5 linked regions of the Homo sapiens genome follow. The protein of the gene in region 1 purifies or fractionates together with the protein of each later gene. This does not show direct contact. Each region holds a gene or a part of one and is shown in the gene's direction. Other genes may lie near its edges. The genes, in order: PEAK3, ASAP2, PRAG1, PEAK1 and ASAP1.

Region 1 (3,054 bases):
GCTGGTCTCAAACCCTAGGTTCCAGTGATCCTCCTGCCTCGGCTTCCACCTTCCTAAGTGCTGGGATTACAAGCATGAGCCACCGGCGCCCAGCCTCATTACTTCCATGTTAGAGATGGGGAAACCGAGGCTGAGAGGTGGAGTCACGTGTCCCGTTCCCACTCCGCCTGTCCTCAACCCTCCCCCACTGTCTCTCCCTGCAGGTCAGATCCGTGCCCACCTGCTGCCCTCCAAGGCCTGCCGCCTCCGGACCCCTGGGTCCCTCTCCACCAACCCAGAGCCCCTGCCCCCACCCCTGCCCAAGAAGATCCTAACCCGGACCCAGTCACTGCCCACCCGCAGGACCCTCCATCCCAGCTCCATCCAAGTACAGCCGCCTCGGAGACCCTTTCTGGGGTCCCACAGTGTGGACAAGAGCCAGGCTGCAGTGGGACCAGCCTGTCTCCCTGCAGAGCTGACCTTTGGCCCGGCTGACGCCCCACTGGGCCTCTCCCTCCGCGATCTGCACAGCCCGGAGGCTGTGCACACTGCACTGGCTGCGCGGCAGCTGCAGGGCCTCCGTACCATCTATGCCCGGCTCCGTGCCCGGCTCATGGGGGGCCACCCCGGGCCCTGCCACCCCGGCCACAGCTTCCGCCTCCTAGACAGCTCACCCTGCGCAGAGAGCGGGGACGCCCTGTATTACCGCGTGGTGCGCGCGCACGAGGACGCCTGGCACATCCTGGTCGCCAAGGTGAGCCCCACAGCCCCACCCTCTCTGAGGTGTCCCCAGTGCCCCATCTTAGACATAACCCAGGGCTTGTTTCATTTGGCCTTTCTGTGAGTCAGTTCTCACACTGCTGTAAAGAAATACTGGAGCCGGGCGCGGTGGCTCACGCCTGTCATCCCAGCACTTTGGGAGGCCAAGGCGGGCGGATCAGCTGAGGTCAGGAGTTCAAGACCAGCCTGGCCAACATGGTGAAACCCAGCCTCTACTAAAAATACAAAAATTAGGTGTGGTGGCGGGCGCCTGTAAACCCAGCTACTTGGGAGACTGAGGCAGGAGAATTGCTTGAACCCGGGAGGCAGAGGTTGCAGTAAGCCAAGATTGGGCCATTGCACTCCAGCCTGGGCAACAGAGTGAGACTCCGTCTCAAAAAAAAAAAAAAGAAAAAGGCCGGGCACAGTGGCTCACACCTGTAATCCCAGCACTTTGGGAGGCCGAGGCGGGCAGATCACGAGGTCAGGAGATACAGACCATCCTGGCTAACACGGTGAAACCCTGTTTCTACTAAAAAGACAAAAAATTAGCCGGGCGTGGTGGTGGGCACCTGTAGTCCCAGCTATTTGGGAGGCTGAAGCAGGAGAATGGCATGAACCCAGGGGGCAGAGCTTGCGGTGAGCCGAGAACGCACCACTGCGCTCCAGCCTGGGCGACAGAGCGAGACTCCGTCTAAAAAAAAAAAAAAAGGCTGGGCAGCACAGTGGCTGACGCCTGTAATCTCAGCACTTTGGAAGGCCAAGGCGGGCAGATCATGAGGTCAGGAGTTCGAGACCAGCCTGGCCAACATAGTGAAACCCCCATCTCTACTAAAAATACAAAAATTAGCCGGGCGCGGTGGTGCGCACCTGAAGTCCCAGCTACTTGGAGGCTAAGGCAGGAGAATCACTTGAACCTGGGAGGCGGAGGTTGCAGTGAGCTGAGATTCGAAAATTGGGCTATTGCACTCCAGCCTGGGCGACAGAGTGAGACTCTGTCTCAAAAAAGAAAAACAAAAGAGAAGAAAAAAGAAAAGAAAAGAAAAAGGAATACTGGAGACTGGGTAATTTATAGAGAAAAGGGCCTTAATTGGCTCATGGTTCTGGTGGCTTCTGCTTCTGGGGAGGCCTCAGGAAGCTTCCAATCATAGTGGAAGGCGAGGCGGGAGCAGGCATCTCACACGGTGGGAGCAGGAGGAAGGGAGGGAGGAGGTGCTACTCACCTTTACACAGCCAGATCTCACGAGAACTCACTCGTTATCCCAACGACAGTGCCAAGGGAGATGGTGCTGAGCCATTCATGATAAACCACCCCCAAGATCCAAGTCGCCTCCCACCAGACCCCACCTCCAACACTGGGGAATGAGATTTGGTGGGGACACAGATCCAGACCATATTAGACTTGTTTATTTTGCAACTAACACGTGAATCAACGCAGTTAACCCAGGAAACCATGTTTCTAAAGTATGGGGCCATGGGTATGGCCTTGGAGCTCTTGTCAAAACCCCTCCCACACCTCTCTGGCCGGGGATCTGCTTTTGTGTTTTTTGTTTTGTTTTTTGTTTTTGAGACAGAGTCTCACTCTGTTGCCCAGGCTGGAGTGCAGTGGCGCGTTCTCGGCTCACTGCAACCTCCACCTCCCGGGCTCAAGCGATTCTCTCACCTCAGCCTCCGAAGTAGCTGGGATGACAGGCGCGCCACCACGCCCAGCTAGTTTTGCATTTTTTAGTAGAGACGAGCGTTCCCTGCGTTGGCCAGGCTGGTCTCGAACTCCTGACCTCAGCGATCCCCCTGCCTCCCAAAGTGCTGGGAAGGCGTGAGCCACCGCGCCCGGCCCAGGAATCTGCTTTCGAACTCATTGCCCAGGAACATCTTCTTCCCTGGCTTAACTTTCCTGAAAGTCCTTACTGGTGACTAACTTCCAAATTAACACTGACCTCCTGCTGCTGGAGGGATGCAGGCAGCCCCTAGCCGTAGTGGGGGCAGTTTGGGGGTGTGCGTGGGAGGCTTCGGGGCAGGTAGCACTGGGGCAGGCGGTGCTTGTGGGGGGCCCAGTGATCCAGGCCCCGACACCCCCTCTGCCTTGCAGGTGCCCAAGCCCGGGGCGGACGTGCCCCACCCGTGGGGCCTGGAGCTGCAGGCCTCCCTGTCTCCACACTTCAATCTGCAGGGGCTGTGTGGCCTGGTGCCTGAAGGCACACTGCCCGGGGCGCCCTGGAGAGGCGCAGTGGCGCTGGCAGCCGAGGTTCCAGAGCGCACGGTGGCGCAGTGGCTGGCGGAGGCCTGCACGCAGCCGCCGGAGGAGTTCGTGTGGGC
Region 2 (4,032 bases), on another chromosome or scaffold:
TTCCTATGAGTATCTGTAGTGAAAATGGTTTGTGCAGGGGTATGTGGGTTTGGGTTGAAAACTGGCCAGATACCCCAGAGAGTCATCACAGGAAACCTGGCTGCAGTATAAGCCGTGATTTGATGAACATCCTGAGAAGGTGAGGGACATGGGGTCAAGACCTGATTCTGGCTGATTGAGGAGCATCTGTCTTCACCCCTCTCAGATTCCTCCTCTACTTCCTCACCAGCCTCATGGGATGAGTATCACCAAGATGCTTTTGAACTCTCAAGATGCTTTTGAACTGCCTGGGTGGGCCAGGCAGTGGCTCATGCCTGTAATGCAAGCACTTTGGGAGGCCAAGGTGGGAGGATTGCTTGAGGTCAGGAGTTCGAGACCAGACTGGGCAACATAGCAAGACCTACAAAAAATTTAAAAATAGTGCAGTATGGTGACATGTGCCTTTGGTCCCAGCTACTCAGGGAGCTGAGATGGGAGGATCGCTTGAGTTCAGGAGGTTGAGGTTGCAGTGAGTTGTGTTCGTGCCATTGCACTCCAGCTTGGACAACACAGCAAGACTGTCTAAAAAAAAAAAAAGACATTTGGGCAGTTGGGGAAGTCAAGTGGAGGCACATGCATTGAGGCAGTGAGGGTGATATTTTCTGTGTGCATCTGCCAGGCACTCCATGGTCACCCATTCCTCCTCTTCCTCATCTGGTCAGTTCATCTTGGAATCTGCCCAGAGAACTCAGAAGAGCAATAGACTGGCTGGCTGGTTGCAGTTACTTCCTACAAGATGTTCCTTTACCATCCTTGCTCCTAAACAGGGGCTTCCCATTCTCATGAAGGTGGAATTGGGGCCAGGGGCAGTGGCTCACACCTATAGTCCAAGCTACTTGGGAGGCTGAGGTGGGGGGATCACTTGAGTCCAGGAGTTTGAGGCTGCAGTGAGCTGTGATTGTGCCACTGCACTGTAGCCTGGGTAATAGAGGGAGACCTTGTCTCTTTAAAAAAAGAAAAAGATGTAAATGAGCATGGGCTTTTCTAGGAGGATGGTTCTGTGGCAAGGCCGGCCCTTCTGGGAGCTCATCTAATCCATTGCCTGCAGACCGACCCCACTCATAGCAAATTCAAGTCCTGAGCCATTATCCGCGAACCCCATAGGCACCCTGGGAGGGATGGAAGGAACAGTAGAATTGTGAGGTGACCCAAGTGAGTCCCCTGAGTAGGATGGAGCCAGAGGGAGTCAATGACCTTCCAGGTCCACATGGCAGGTTAGCGGCCAGTAGAGCCAGAGCCCTGGCCACAAGCTGCCCTTCACTGGCCACCAGCACCTGAGTGCTCCGATCGCCCCCTCTGTCTCCTCCTGCTCTTCTCCCTCACGGCTGAAGCTCTGGAAGCCGTCCGCTTATTTGTAGCATCTTTAAAGAGAGTGTAGTGGAGGGGATTCTTGCTTGAAGTTTTTCCTCAGAGGTTTGCCTCCTGCTTGTGCAGTTTTTACACGTCAGAATGCAGAAATTGGCCAGGTGCGGTGGCCCACGCCTGTCATCTCAGTACTTTGGGAGGCTGAGGTGGGAAGATCGCTTGAGCCTGGGAGATTGAGGCTGCAGCGAGCTGTGCACTGCACGTTTGCACCACTCCACTCCAACCTGGGCAGCAGAGTGAGACTCCGTCTCAAAAAAAAAAAAAAAAGAAAAAGAAAAAGATGCCATGGTGTTGTAGAAAGTGGTCGGGCCAGAAGTCCAGGAACCAAGTTCTGCTGCTGGCTATGCTTGTTTTTTGCAGCTTAGCCTCTCTAGGCTTCAGCCCTCACCCAGTCACTTACCAAGAGTTGTTCTAAGAACCAACGTGCTTTCAGGAGTAAACACCACTACAGAGAGGTGGCGTGTCCACTCACTTTTAGGAGCACAGATGTTCGTTGTGTTTCCCTAAGAAGAGAATTGGTACTTGTCATCATTCTGCCATCTGCAAAAGCTGGATTCCCCTGCCCCTGCTTTTCTTTATTAAATATAATTTTATTTTTTGCTTTGGTTTTAGACTGCTTTTAGACAGAGAATATCCATATATCCCTCCCCTAGCTTTCCCTTCTGTTAACATCTTAATACAGTTATCCAGTAGTCCGTGGTACATGTTATCCAATCATATTTATGTAGTTATCAAAACCAGGAAACATTGGTTTGATGCTATTAACTAAAAATCTTACTCAGATTTTACCAGTTTTCCCCCAAATGTCCTTTTTTCTGTTCCAGAATTCTATCCAGAACCCCATGTTACATTTAGTTGTGATTTTATCCTGGTCTCTTGCAGTCTGTATCGGTTCTGTAGTCTCACTTGTTTTTCATGATGCCTTCTTAAAGAGTATTGACCTGTTTTTTGGTCAGACTCCCCTTAATTTGGATTTCTCTAGTGTTTTCTCATGAGTGGATTGAGGTTATATGTTTTTGGCAAGAGCAGCACAGAATGATGCTGCCACATCCCACACAGCCGCCTCCCTGCTGCACACACACACAGGTCCACAGCCTGGCAAAACACTTGTAAAACTGTGCTGACACCAGCAGTATGTAAGTGTAGGATTTTATATTCGACCATTATTTAACACACTCCTCTTGATTTAGCTACATTTCTAGTATTTGATTCTCAAAGCATATTATTCTTAGAATTTCTCATACTAATCTTTTTCTGAGAAAGCCAGAAAACTTCTAAGATATTCTTTTTAAAAAAGGTTTTTATTATTCAAAGGGCTTGAACAATTACTTTTTGGGGGCCAACTCTGTAGTGAGTTAAAATGAAGCTATTGAGAGGATAGTGATGGTTTTCATTGAATAGCTTCAGTTTTTAGAAGCGGCGTCTTTTAAAACTTGAATGAGGGAAAGGGCAGGTTTATTTTGCATTAGAATGCCACCGTTGGTGAAGGCAGACATTTGGAGGATATGAGGGAGTGCCTGATTTTATACAAATCAGTAATTTCGTAACAGAGAGCTAAGATTATTCCAGAGGCTAATTAGAAACTATTTTCTTTTGGAATTGTGTATGGATTGCTGTCTGGGCTCACAGTTGAAATTCCTCTTGCTATGCAGATGACAGAACTTACCACTTTCAAGCTGAAGATGAACAGGAATGTCAAATGTAAGTTACATGGTGGTGGGACTTTGGGCTGGACTCAGCCGTTGTTTGTGGAATTTAACACAGCGTTGCTCTTGTTTTTCTAGATGGATGTCTGTGCTGCAAAATAGCAAAGAAGAAGCTTTAAACAATGCATTTAAGGGGGATGACAATACTGGAGAAAATAACATCGTCCAAGAACTGACAAAGGAGATCATCTCAGAAGTGCAGAGGATGACGGGCAATGACGTCTGCTGTGACTGTGGGGCGCCAGGTGACCCAGGGACCCCACCCGACCCTGGGCTCTAGGACATTTCAATCCCATTCTGATTCACAGAATCCGTTCATTGATTTTCACTTTCATTTCAAACACGAAATTAAGTGCAGCTCAGCCTGAGTTCATCCCATTACACAAATGCTTAATGAACTGTGCAGACCGCGGCAGGGGAGAGGGGCGGGAAGATGTTTGCCTGCCGGGCCCCAGAGCAGGACTGAGTAAAGAGGGTTTGACAGAGCTGCAAAGTTTGAAATGCTTTTTGAGAAATGAAAACTGAAGGGTACAGTGAGAGTGAACTCAAGGTCATGTGGGCTGAGAGGCTGCATGTGGATGGGCTTCCTTGCTTGGAATCTGCTCTCTTCTCCCTTTATCCTACTTTGCAGAACTTCTGAAGTAGCTTTAAGCCGCTGTCTGGCTCTGTGACCCTGGGAGAGCCACTTGCTTTGTTAAACATCGATTTTCCTGTCTGTAAAGTGAAGGGACAGGACCCTTTCAGCTGACACATTCTGTGAAATAAGATTTTATTTTTACATTTTGATAAAGCATATTAGGGGCTTTATAGTAGGATGTGATTTAAGGAATTTGCTTATTCTAATTGAGACACAATGGTGGGGAGTGGGGGTCGGGGACTACACAGGTGCATTTTCTGAACATTTATAAAATGAAAAAGATGG
Region 3 (4,032 bases), on another chromosome or scaffold:
TGTTTTTTGGTGGAGATAGGATCTTGCTGTCTTGCCCAGGCTGGTCTTAAGTTCCTGGTCTCAAACTCCTAGGCTCAAGTGGTCCATCTGCCTCAGCCTCCCATAGTGCTGGGATTATAGGCATAAGCCACCATGCCTGGCCCCACACTTCAGAATATTAGCAGTAATTCCTTAATATTATCTAATACCCAGCCAGTACTCCTGTTTCCAATTTTGAAGCTTGGATTTTACCAGCTTTCTTCTAGGGTCACTAAAAACAGTTACAACCTAGAGGCTAGACCATTCTGCTCATTCCACAGGTAACCTTTACAAACTCAGAGGGCACATAGCCCGGGTCTGCTGGCATCTGCTGTCTTTAGACACATTTAGGAAGCTATGTGGCTAAGACATATCCTAGGAACTGCTTGCTACCTGTTTGACCTCTTTGCCTGTTCTAGTTTTCTTGACCAATATGGTGAGTAGGTCAGGAAGGCTGTGTGAGCATATATGAAAACTAAGGTCAATTCTAAATCAGGGGAGTCTTCATTGAGGAGAGGCATTTCCTTTGGTTGCAGTGAACTTGATGTCCCCTTCCGGGCTGCTCTGTTTTTTCCTAAGCTGCTTACACCCATTCTCCAGGCCATTCTCAATACCTTCAACCTTCACCAACCTGAGCCAGGGACTCTTTAAGCTCAGAATCACCTGGGAAAGAAGCCAGAGGCAGGCCCTGCTTTGAGGCTGCTTCTAAAAGTGGGGGTAAAGGAGGACTTTAGACCAGAAGGAGGAGGAAACGGTGACTTCAGGGATGGTAATGACCAGTCCACATCTCTGTCTCATAGCCCAACGAGTCCAACCACTCGCACAGGCTCAGGCTGAGGTCACTGCTGTAGGCGGGAGAAAGATGACCTCTGGCATAGTTGGAAGCAAAGCACAGAAAGAAGCGAGGAAGCCCAGGTCCAGTTCAGAAGCCACCCCTCACCCTGATCCAGCTCAGAAAACACCCCTCACTCTGATCCAGTTCAGAAGCCACCCCTCACCCTGATCCAGTTCAGAAACCACCCCTCACTCTGATCCGGTTCAGAAGCCACCCCTCACCCTGATCCAGTTCAGAAACTACCCCTCACTCTGATCTGGTTCAGAAACCACCCCTCACCCTGATCCGGTTCAGAAACCACCCCTCACCCTCCTGTTCTGCCCACACCCACCCACCCAATGTGTTTCTTTTTTCTTTATTATTATTATTATTAATTATCATTATTTTTGGTACAGGGTCTGGCATTGTCGCCCAGGCTGGAGTGTGGTGGTGTGATTTGGGTCACTGCAACCTCCGCCTCCTGGGCTCAAGACATCCTTCCACCTCAACCTCCCAAGTAGCTGGGACTGTAGGTACACACCACCACGCCCACCAAGTTTTTGTATTTTTTTGTAGAGATGGGATTTGGCCATGTTGCCCAGGCTCGTCTTGAACTCCTGGGCTCAAGCAATCTGCCCTCCTCGGCCCACCATAGTGCTGGGATTACAGGTATGAGCCACGGCATCTGGCTCCAGTGTGTTCAGTGTGTTTTAAAAACACTTAAGACTTCGATTTCTTCAGGCATGCACTGTGATTGGGTTATCAAAAAACCCACAAACTCAAAGCAAAAATTAAACAAAACCCCAAGCTCCATTTTCCAATCCAGTGGAACAACTTGTGTCACCCAGCAGCTGGTTGCAAGGGAGGAAGAAGGCACAGTGTTCTTTTTCAGAGTTATATTTTTCTTTTCCTACTTCACAGACTTAAGCCAAAAGCATTACAGTCCATGGGTAGGAAGGGCAGCTCAGTGTCTGGGAAGACAAATGGCTCAGCGGGTGCCCCAGCAATGATCACAGGGCCGTGGGGAGATGAGAAGGTGGGCGTGCACTGAGTCCCCGGCCCCAGCGCCCCTGCACTGCACTACAGAAGACATTCTACAGTATCGTTGCCCTTCCCTCTCACTTTTCCTCTCTCTCTTTTTTCTATGACAAGTTCTAATATAAGTCTTTTTGCGTTGGGCTTGTGTGTAGGTCATCTGGAGACGAGCCCCTGGCAAGCTCCCCCTCCCGAAGCAGGAGGATGCCCCCGTCGTCTACCTGGGCAGCTTCCGAGGTGTACAGAAGCCTGCTGGTCCCTCTACCTCCCCTGATGGCAATTCTCGCTGTCCCCCAGCTTACACCATGGTCGGCCTGCACAACCTTGAGCCCCGCGGCGAGAGGAACATTGCCTTCCACCCGGTGAGCTTCCCGGAGGAGAAGGCTGTGCACAAAGAAAAACCCTCATTTCCTTACCAAGACCGGCCCTCCACCCAGGAGAGCTTCCGCCAGAAACTGGCTGCCTTTGCTGGGACCACATCTGGCTGTCACCAGGGCCCTGGGCCCCTGCGGGAATCCCTGCCCTCGGAGGATGACAGTGATCAAAGGTGCTCGCCCTCCGGGGACAGCGAGGGTGGAGAGTACTGCTCCATCCTGGACTGCTGCCCTGGGAGCCCTGTTGCCAAGGCTGCCTCCCAGACTGCAGGTTCCCGGGGCAGGCATGGTGGCAGGGACTGCTCACCCACGTGCTGGGAGCAGGGGAAGTGTTCCGGGCCCGCAGAGCAGGAGAAGCGGGGCCCGAGCTTCCCCAAGGAGTGCTGTAGCCAGGGCCCCACTGCCCACCCATCCTGCCTGGGCCCCAAGAAACTGTCCCTCACCTCGGAGGCTGCCATTTCTTCCGACGGCCTCTCTTGTGGCAGCGGCAGCGGCAGCGGCAGCGGCGCCAGTAGCCCCTTCGTCCCCCACCTCGAGAGTGATTACTGCTCCCTCATGAAGGAACCTGCCCCAGAGAAGCAGCAGGACCCTGGCTGCCCAGGGGTGACCCCTAGCAGATGCCTTGGGCTGACGGGGGAGCCCCAGCCCCCGGCCCACCCCCGGGAGGCTACACAGCCTGAACCCATCTATGCTGAGAGCACCAAGAGGAAGAAGGCAGCTCCGGTGCCTTCCAAGTCACAGGCCAAGATAGAACATGCAGCTGCTGCCCAGGGCCAAGGCCAGGTATGCACAGGTAATGCCTGGGCCCAGAAAGCAGCATCTGGCTGGGGCCGGGACAGCCCAGACCCAACTCCCCAGGTGTCAGCCACCATCACAGTCATGGCGGCCCACCCGGAAGAGGACCATCGGACGATCTACCTGAGCAGCCCTGACTCTGCAGTGGGGGTGCAGTGGCCACGAGGGCCTGTGAGCCAGAACTCCGAGGTAGGTGAAGAGGAGACTTCGGCTGGGCAGGGGCTGAGCTCCAGGGAAAGCCATGCTCACAGTGCCAGCGAGAGCAAGCCCAAGGAGAGGCCCGCCATTCCCCCCAAGTTGTCCAAGAGTAGCCCTGTAGGGTCCCCGGTGTCACCGTCTGCTGGAGGGCCCCCAGTGTCACCGCTGGCTGACCTTAGTGATGGGAGCTCTGGCGGCAGCAGCATTGGGCCCCAGCCTCCATCCCAAGGTCCTGCTGACCCCGCTCCTTCCTGCCGGACCAACGGTGTCGCTATCAGTGACCCATCCAGGTGTCCCCAGCCTGCCGCCTCGTCAGCCTCGGAACAGAGGCGGCCCAGGTTCCAGGCAGGCACCTGGAGTCGTCAGTGCCGGATAGAGGAAGAAGAGGAGGTGGAGCAGGAATTGCTGAGTCACAGCTGGGGAAGAGAGACCAAAAATGGCCCCACGGACCATTCAAACTCCACGACCTGGCACCGTCTCCACCCCACAGATGGCTCCTCTGGGCAGAACAGCAAAGTTGGGACCGGGATGAGCAAATCCGCCTCTTTTGCCTTTGAGTTCCCCAAGGACAGAAGTGGGATTGAGACATTCTCACCTCCTCCTCCGCCTCCAAAGTCGCGGTGAGTACCATTGTCTGCCTGGGACTCTGTCTGCAGGGCAAAGGGCTCTTCCAGAAGAAACCTTTGCCCTCATCAAAGCTTTCAGGCCCAGGTCCCAGAATCTGCCCAAAGGCCCTTGTGCCTTTATGTAAATTTCCCAGGGTCCCAGTGCAGCCCTCGGAGAGCAGGAGTTGTGGCC
Region 4 (4,032 bases), on another chromosome or scaffold:
GCCAGGAATAGATAGTTTACATTTGTTTGACAAATGTTTGAGTACCTTTTAAGTGCCAGGCATGGTGGTAGGTAGGACCTGAGTATTATAGAATATGAGATTCCTTTTTGCAAGGAGTTTACAGTTGAGGAGGAGAAGATAGGTGATAACCAATAATTATAGTATGACAGGGGCATGCACACATTCCTATGGATGGAAGCACAGAGGAGGGGTAGCTGACTCAGACTTCGGGGGATGGGTGGAGGGTGTCTAGAATGCATCTTAGAGTGTTACCTGAGCTAATCTTCAATAATAGGTAAGAGTTAACTAGGTCCAGAAAGAGGGAAAGTACATCTTATACCAGTGCTGTCCTATAAAATTTAATACAAGCCACAAATATGTTACATATACAATTTAAAATTTTCTAGTAACCAAATTTTAAAAAGTAAAAAGTGAAATTAATTTTAATAATATAAACTCAGTATATCCAAAATATCATTTCAACATGCATTCAGTATAAAAAGTAATATTGAAATATGACATTTCCATTTTCATACTGTCTTCAGAATCTGGTGCATAATTTTCTACTGTTTTCAGAATCTGGTGTGTAATTTACACTTATAGCACATCTCAATTTGGACAACTACATTCACATACTCAATAGCTGCAGGTGAGTGGACAGCAGCAGCACAGCTTTAGAACAGGGGTGGATGAAGTAATAAGCCAAATCAATGATTGTCTTGTGAACCAAGTTAATAACTTTAACTTAATTCCAAAAGTTGCGGGGATTTAGTGGGGAAAAAAAATTATGCTGTGGTAGAATCAGATTTGTATTTTAGACCTGTCATTTTGACAGTGAAGTGAATATTGAATTAGAGAGGGACAAAACTGGAAGCAAGGACCAGTTAGGAAGCTATTCCTGGTGAGAAATGATGAAGAGTGTAGAAGAGGGAGTGGCTCTATGAGAGATTTAGGAAGTATTATTAACGGGACAGGATAAATCTATTTAGATTATAGAATTGAGCAAGATTGAAGATTTTGGATGATTCCTACATTTCTGTTGTGATCCGCTGAGTAGATTGGGCAAGCAGCTGAAGAGAAGCCAACCATCTGTGCCAGACAGACCAAAGATGAAAAAAGGAAATAGAGATTTGTCATGGAAGCTGAGGGAGAATATTATTTCAAGGGCTAGGAGTGGTCAACACTGTATCCTGCCTCCAAAAGGAAAAGTAAGATAAAGACCTAATGAAGTCTCTGAGACTTGGTGATTAGGATGTCTTTTATAACTTCAGCTAGAGCACTTAGCTACATTGTAATGCATGGGGGTGGGTGTTGAAAAGTGAATGACAACTGTAAGTGTAGCTAATTGAGAGGGGTACAATGTTTTCAACAAAGGACTCTGAAGGAGTCTTTAAGCAGGGGGAGATACTTGGGATTTAGAGAATCTTGGACATTCTTAATGTGAGCCTGGAAAGAGCCACTGGAGAGGAGAAACTGAAGAAGAGTGTATATGTGTGTGTTTGGTGGGCGTGGGAGACTGGCTGGTGGATGGAGACAAGGATTTGAAGGTAATAAGGAATGGGATCCAGGGCGTAGGCAGAGAAGTTGGTCTTAAGTAGAAGGTAGTCTCACTTTTCCAGTGAGCAGAAAGGAAGGAGATGGATGGCAATGTAAATAAGTTTGTAACTGACAGGGCAGGAAGGAAGAGTTGATGACATGTCTTGTGTAATTTTTGATCATCTGCTAAGAGTGAAGGGAACGTGGTAGAATAGGAGTTTTTAAACAATGTATGTGAGGCCAAGTGCTGTGGCATGTGCCTGTAGTCCCATCTACTCAGTAGGCTGGGGCAGGAGGATCGCTTGAACCCAGAAGTTGAAGGCCAGCCTGGGCAACATAATGAGACCCTATCTCTTAAAAAACACACACACAAACAAAAAAGCCAGGTAAAATTAATCCACCCCTGTGAAAGGAATGGAAAAAAAGATAGTCTGTAGTTTATACATACTCTTTGTAAACGGCTTCCAAGGGAATGGCTAACAGTGGATGGGGTGGAGGTAAGGGAGAGAGAGGTAAACAGACACATGACTAGGAAACTGAAGAAGGATTGTTAGTTACATGACTAGGAAACTGAAGAAGGATTGTTAGTTAGCATTGAGGACCTGTTTATTTCAGATTGTAGACCTCACATTTGTAGCAGTACCAATTTTCGTGGTTGATTTTTCTCCAGCAGTGAGTGATCAGACTATCTGAAGAAACTATTTAATACTCTCAAGAACCTTATGAGTTATGTATTGTTACTGTTACTCTCCTTGTTTGTAAGATGAACAGCTTGGGTTTAAATTCTGCCCAGGCTGTTATCTGCTGCTTTGTAGATATCTGTTTGGTAGAGATATCTGAAGGACAGTTGGTTGAGGGAATTAATGATATTGAGTATTGTAGCTCTACTGAAGAACTATGGAGTCCTCCTGGATTATGAGCTGGAAGCCTGTAAGGAGGTGATCCAGTTGGGAGAAAATGAGGAGCATGAAATGCTAGAAGTCAGTGTGAAGCTGTAGAGCAAATGAAGAGCAAATAATACTAGCTTCTATTTGTGGAGTACCTCCTATGTGCTAGACACTTTAATACCTAATTCTGATCCTAACACTAACTCAACAATTTTGTTATTTACCTTATATTATTTCCTTTGTTCTCCTTCAGATGAAGAAACTGAGGATTAGAAAGGTTAAATAACATATTCAGACACACCCTGTCAAGTGATGGAACCAGGATTCAAAGCCCATTCTTTCTTGTCCAAACCATGTTCGTTTCAAGTCAGAGGATAAGATAGAAAATACAGTAATTGGGCCTGGCATAGTGGGTCATACCTGTAGTCCCAGCACTTTGGGAGGCCAAGGTGGGTTGAGGTCAGGACATTAAGATCAGCCTGGGCAAAATGGTGAAACCCCGTCGCTTACAAAAAAAAAAAAAAAATACAAAAAATTAGCTAGGCATGGTGGTGCACACCTGTAGTCCCACCTACTCAGGAGGCTGAGGTGGGAGGATCACTTGAGCCTGGGAGGTTCAATCTGCAGTGAACTGTGATTGTGCCACTGCACTCCAGCCTGGGTGACAGAGCAAGACCCTGTCTCAAAAAAAAAAAAAAAAAAAAGAAGGAAAGAAGGAAGGAAAGACAGAAGGAAAGGAAGGAAAGAGAAAGAAGGAAGGAAGGAAAGAAAGAAAAGAAAGAAAATGCAGGCTGGGTGTGGTGGCTTATTCCTGTAATCCCAGTACTATGGGAGGCTGAAGTGGGAAGATCGTCTGAGCCCAGGAGTTTAAGACCAGCCTAGGCGACATAGGGAGGCCTCATCTCTAAAAACTATAATAAATTAGCCGGGTGTGGTGGCATGTGCCTGTGGGCCTAGCTACTTAGGAGGCTGAGGTCAGAGGATCACTTGAGCCTGGATGGTAGAGGCTGTAGTGAGCCATGATTGCACCACTGCACCCCAGTCTGGGCAACAGAGTAAGACCCTGTCTCAAAGAAACAAACAGAAAAACTGCTGCTATATACTCTTCACCTGGGTTCCTCTAATGTTAACATCCTACATAACCATGGTGCATTTATCAAGCTAAGAAATTAGTATTGGTACGATGCTTCAACCAAGCTTCAAACTGCTTTAATATTTTACCAGTTTTTCTAGTATTCTTTTTCCATTCTGTTATCCAAACCTTGATATTGCATTGCTTTAGTTGTCTTCTTTGTCTCTCCCAATGTGTGGCAGTTTCTTGGTCTTTTCTTATCTTTTATAACCTTGACACAAGTATTTTGTAGAATGTTCTTCAGTTTAGGTTTGTCTGATGTTTTCTCATGATTAGATTGGGGTTATGGATTTTGGGGGAGAGTACTGCAAAGGTGAAGTGCCCCTATTATTTCATACAGGAGGTGCATGATATCAAATAATTTATCACTTGTGAGCACTCTGTTACGGTGGTTTCTGCTAGGTTTGTCCACTGTAAAGTTACTATTTTTCCTTTCCCATAGTCCGTGCACTAGAAACAGGTTGCTAAGTGTAGCCC
Region 5 (4,603 bases), on another chromosome or scaffold:
AGCAACTGATGACTACAGCAGAGATACCTGCGGGGAATGGGAAGCTGTCATTGGTGTCCCTAGCATCATTCCTAGGGGACATTGTGTGTGCCACCATTACGTGCCTCGCCAGATGTAAAGATGGTGCCACACACACATGCTAACTGTGATGTGAAATTCACAAAGACCTCACACATGCATGATGCCAACTAAGACCACACGCGGTGGGTGGGCAAGCCTTCAGGAGAGCTGGGCAGGCCTGGTTGACTCTGTTCCACTCTTAAAACCACCTTCCTCTCTATCGATTTGGCATTGGAAGCCAATATGCACGATTTTGTTTTTTCTATTGAAGGCCCATTACATGATTCTCTTTAGTGCAATCAATACTAATCTAATTGAGGTAATTAGAAAATTTTTACAGGTAACTGGCTTACAGGCCAATGCAGCAGACAATAAAATTGCCATTCGCCACCATCAGTCTCAAACTTTCACAGTATTCTTCCTCCACGGTAACCAGAAAACAAGTGATAGTACATAGCAGCCTTTTTTTTTTTTTTTTACTGGCTAGAACAACACTTTACTCACAAAGAGAAGAGACAGAACAAGATTAGCTTTGATTTGAGTATGGTACCCCGCAGTGGGTCTTGCCAGGCAGCTGACACAGCTTAATGGTCTGTATGCATCCTACCTGGGCTGTGGGCAAAGAAACCCCTTCCTTCCCAACTAGGAATAGGTAATAGTACTGGGATTGGCCAGGTGCCATAGCAGCCTTTTCATTTGCTTTTTTTTTTTTTTTTCTTTTTTAAATGTATCACACAAGCCTGGAGAGAAGGGATTTTCTTTAGCCCCACTTAACAGAGAAAAGGCTTAGCAAGGTTTGTGTGAGGTCACCCAGCTGTAAAGGCAGCCAGGCGCCCTGGTTCAGAGCAAGGACTCTAGAGCCCCACGCCTGTGGGAGAGCATGTCACCTCTCTGGGCCACTGTCCCTTCATCTGTAAAATGAAGATTGTAAACTGTATAAGAAATATCCACCTCAGGGGGTTGCTGTGTGGGTACAGCAAGATCCATGTAGAATGCTGAGCATATTGGAAGTTCTGTCGTTTGCTCTTTCCTTATGTAGTTTATGACCGTTAAGCTCTCTGTAGTTCACTAAAGGGTGGGAAGAAGGGTAAGCCTGGGATTCCACCGCCAGGTCTGTGGGCAGACTAGGCTGGGCTCTTACCCACTGGGTTTGTCGTGGGGCCACTGCCTGCTGCCTCCATCCTGACCACTCTCTTTTCTCCCTGCAGATTGGCCACATCGAAGGACAGCCTGAAAGGAAGGGGGTCTTTCCAGTGTCCTTTGTTCATATCCTGTCTGACTAGCAAAACGCAGAACCTTAAGATTGTCCACATCCTTCATGCAAGACTGCTGCCTTCATGTAACCCTGGGCACAGTGTGTATATAGCTGCTGTTACAGAGTAAGAAACTCATGGAAGGGCCACCTCAGGAGGGGGATATAATGTGTGTTGTAAATATCCTGTGGTTTTCTGCCTTCACCAGTATGAGGGTAGCCTCGGACCCGGCGCGCCTTACTGGTTTGCCAAAGCCATCCTTGGCATCTAGCACTTACATCTCTCTATGCTGTTCTACAAGCAAACAAACAAAAATAGGAGTATAGGAACTGCTGGCTTTGCAAATAGAAGTGGTCTCCAGCAACCGTTGAAAGGCATAGAATTGACTCTGTTCCTAACAATGCAGTATTCTCAATTGTGTTACTGAAAATGCAACATTAGCAAAGAGGTGGGTTCTGTTTTCCAGGTGAAACTTTTAGCTCCATGACAGACCAGCCTGTAGTTATCTGTGTACACAGTTTACAGCTACAAAAACCTACTTTGGTATTTATTACAGAAAAGTGCTCAGTTAAATGTAAGTGTTATTCCTTCAGCAAAATATTCACTGACCCAAAACTCTTTATGGCATTTTACAATGCACACAGCCTCATGCAAGTTTAGACAAGTGGATTTATACTGTCTTATGAGTGCCCGCCCCTGATATATTACCTCATTATGCAAAAATAACATATCTTTCATGACTATTTTGACAAAAGTTTAAAACACATATGAAGTTCAAATTTCAGGAACCAAGGACTGCCAGAAAATATTAGCCTCTACATTACGCATGCATTTAGAAGCTTACCTGAAATCTGCCTTTTATAAAGGAATAGTATGGATAAGTGGAATTGTACATTTTTTAAACTTGATTGCCATTAAAGCAGAAATTATAAGGTTGCAACAATATTTGTTTCTAATCACTGGCTTTCTCAAGAGTATGGATTGACATATTGTGTTATGAATGCACATCTCTCAGATGTGTTGAAGCATCCATTGCATCCATTTTTTATTATTTTCTTAGTTTTGTTCTTGGACAAATTTAAACTTTTAAAAGATTATTCAAGATGAATTTAAAAGTCAACCCTTCACACAGTTTCCCTACTGTATGTAGAATCCAGGTGCTGAAACCAAGTGTTTCTTTTCCCATGCTCTTTGTTAAACCCCAATTATAGATAATTTTTCCAGTCTTAAGCTCTGTCCACCTTCAAGTCAATTCATAACCAAGTTTTTGAACGCTGCTATGAATTGCACTGTGAAAAGCACTCTTCCCTCTCAGTTTTCTTTTCATCCCAGCCATGTTTATCAGATCCTTAAGAACATTGTATTTCAGTCTTTTACATCAGTCTGAATTTTGGAAAAGAATGCAATAGTTGTACTCCACAGTCAGTGGAACTGTTCCCTGAGTCCGAGGCTCATGTGTCATTCTGGCACTACATTTGCTTAAATTGCTATTTTGGCAACAGCACAGAAAACTAATATTTTTAAGCAGAGAATCTTGGCAATGAGTGAGAGATGTTAATTTCACAGAAGCACAACTCCCAACCCAACCCTTAGGAAAAGCCCTCTTCCATCGTTACAGTGCTCAGTGAATATTAATTTAGTTCTGCTTAAGTGGTTGCTATACAAACTTTGAATAGCCACCTAATAAATAAACCTTGCATGACAAACCTGCAAAATATTTTATCAGCTGTTATTGGAAAGTGATTTTAAGCAATTGCTTCCTCAGTGTCAGGGCACATGTGAATTTCCACACCAAACAGAGCATGAGGAACCAGTTGACATGCTGGGTTGTGACTGGCAGCTTTAGCAGCCTCGGTACTGAAGCCACACCAGTGTCCGGATGGAAGTCTGCATCTGAGGTTGCTCAGTGTCCCGGTCATTCATTTACACATTTTAACTTGCATTAAAGAGCTGTTCTTTTCTGTGGCCTAGACTCTTTTCACTGATCTCAAAATAAACTGGTTTTTTTCAAAAAAAAAAAAAAAACAAAAACAAAAAAAAAACACAAAAGCTGCATGTCTAAAATTACATGGAGTTAGTGTCTATTCTTTTTCCCCTTTTGCAGCAACTTACACAGCATTTTTAACACCTTTTTTTTCTAGTTTTTTTGTTCGGTTTTGTTTTCCATCAGGAATTTGAGTTCTCTCTAACCCAGCTTACTGTGGGACATAGGAAAACTCAGTAGAAATACCTTTGGTGATCTTGTTGAGTTTAAGTCTGATCTTGATCTTAAACTCAGTAAGCCACTATCTGCAATTTTGTACATTATATAGTATTTTGAAGATATGGAACCTTATGAAAAAAAAATAGCAAATTAGTTCTTTTTCCCCCAGAGGGGAAAGTTATGTTCTGCAAATAGTGTGTGTCTTATTTTACTGTTGAACAGCAATTGCTATTTATTTTTTTATTGCCTAGAACTTCAACATGTTGTATAGGAATCCTGTAGTGCCACTAGTTAAATGCCGAATTCTCATCTGGATGTTACCATCAAACATCAGTACACTTGTCATTTCACATGTGTTTAATGTGACAGTTTTTCAGTACTGTATGTGTTAATTTCTACTTTTTTTAATATTTAAAATTGCTTTTAAATAAACATATTCTCAGTTGATCCCAAACTTCTGAAATCAGGCCATTTTGTGAGTTGTTCACTACCCTGCTGACAGGAGAGAATCAAGGCTTCCTCTGGCTGTGCTTTCGGGTATATAGATGACACAGGTCACTCCAACCCTTGTCAGAGATCACTCTGGATACATAAAAATATGTGGCACTTGCCCCGGCTTACAAACTGTGGGCCTTCGGCCCCTTTCTGTCCTCCACCTTCCGCATTCCACCTCCACCACGTCCACTTGTGCGCCCGTTGATGTGAACAGGGCAAGAAGAGGGTGGAGGGGCACGAGGCTTACATGTTGTCGTGTGGACAGCACTTCTGTCACGTAGCTGTCACAACTAGTGCTGCCACGCAGTGGAGCAGACCTGGCCCAGGCACTCTGCCTGCATTAACCCCTGAATCCTTAGCAAGCCCAGGAGAAGCGTGAGCCCCTCAGCTTTACAGAGCTGACAAATGAGGCTCAGAGGCATTCATTCACACACAGGAGACATGTGGCTTGTAAATCACTAAGGTGGGAGTGCACACAGGTGGTTCTGGCTCCAAGGCCATCCTTGCAATTCCCACTGCCTGGAAGACACTCTCCTTTATGGAGAACCACAGTGGCGGAAAGCAGGCCGAGACTGCGGCAGGGAGGATCCCG

What was found.
Region 2: the proteins of PEAK3 (region 1) and ASAP2 purify together in Homo sapiens (affinity purification with mass spectrometry, with the first as the bait; one study listed by BioGRID). This does not show direct contact.
Region 3: the proteins of PEAK3 (region 1) and PRAG1 purify together in Homo sapiens (affinity purification with western blotting, with the first as the bait; one study listed by BioGRID). This does not show direct contact.
Region 4: the proteins of PEAK3 (region 1) and PEAK1 purify together in Homo sapiens (affinity purification with western blotting; one study listed by BioGRID). This does not show direct contact.
Region 5: the proteins of PEAK3 (region 1) and ASAP1 purify together in Homo sapiens (affinity purification with western blotting; one study listed by BioGRID). This does not show direct contact.

The regions. Positions count from the first base shown.
Region 1 is NC_000019.10:2,276,263-2,279,316, reverse strand, and holds part of PEAK3 (protein PEAK3), read left to right. Parts: intron 1-203; coding exon 204-733; intron 734-2,827; coding exon 2,828-3,054.
Region 2 is NC_000002.12:9,352,991-9,357,022, forward strand, and holds part of ASAP2 (arf-GAP with SH3 domain, ANK repeat and PH domain-containing protein 2), read left to right. Parts: intron 1-3,056; coding exon 3,057-3,105; intron 3,106-3,188; coding exon 3,189-3,355; intron 3,356-4,032. UniProt on the Homo sapiens protein: Activates the small GTPases ARF1, ARF5 and ARF6. Regulates the formation of post-Golgi vesicles and modulates constitutive secretion. Modulates phagocytosis mediated by Fc gamma receptor and ARF6. Modulates PXN recruitment to focal contacts and cell migration.
Region 3 is NC_000008.11:8,376,069-8,380,100, reverse strand, and holds part of PRAG1 (inactive tyrosine-protein kinase PRAG1), read left to right. Parts: intron 1-2,022; coding exon 2,023-3,854; intron 3,855-4,032. UniProt on the Homo sapiens protein: Catalytically inactive protein kinase that acts as a scaffold protein. Functions as an effector of the small GTPase RND2, which stimulates RhoA activity and inhibits NGF-induced neurite outgrowth.
Region 4 is NC_000015.10:77,413,303-77,417,334, reverse strand, and holds part of PEAK1 (inactive tyrosine-protein kinase PEAK1), read left to right. Parts: intron 1-4,032. UniProt on the Homo sapiens protein: Probable catalytically inactive kinase. Scaffolding protein that regulates the cytoskeleton to control cell spreading and migration by modulating focal adhesion dynamics. Acts as a scaffold for mediating EGFR signaling.
Region 5 is NC_000008.11:130,051,471-130,056,073, reverse strand, and holds the end of ASAP1 (arf-GAP with SH3 domain, ANK repeat and PH domain-containing protein 1), read left to right. Parts: intron 1-1,268; coding exon 1,269-1,343; 3' UTR 1,344-3,970; downstream 3,971-4,603. UniProt on the Homo sapiens protein: Possesses phosphatidylinositol 4,5-bisphosphate-dependent GTPase-activating protein activity for ARF1 (ADP ribosylation factor 1) and ARF5 and a lesser activity towards ARF6.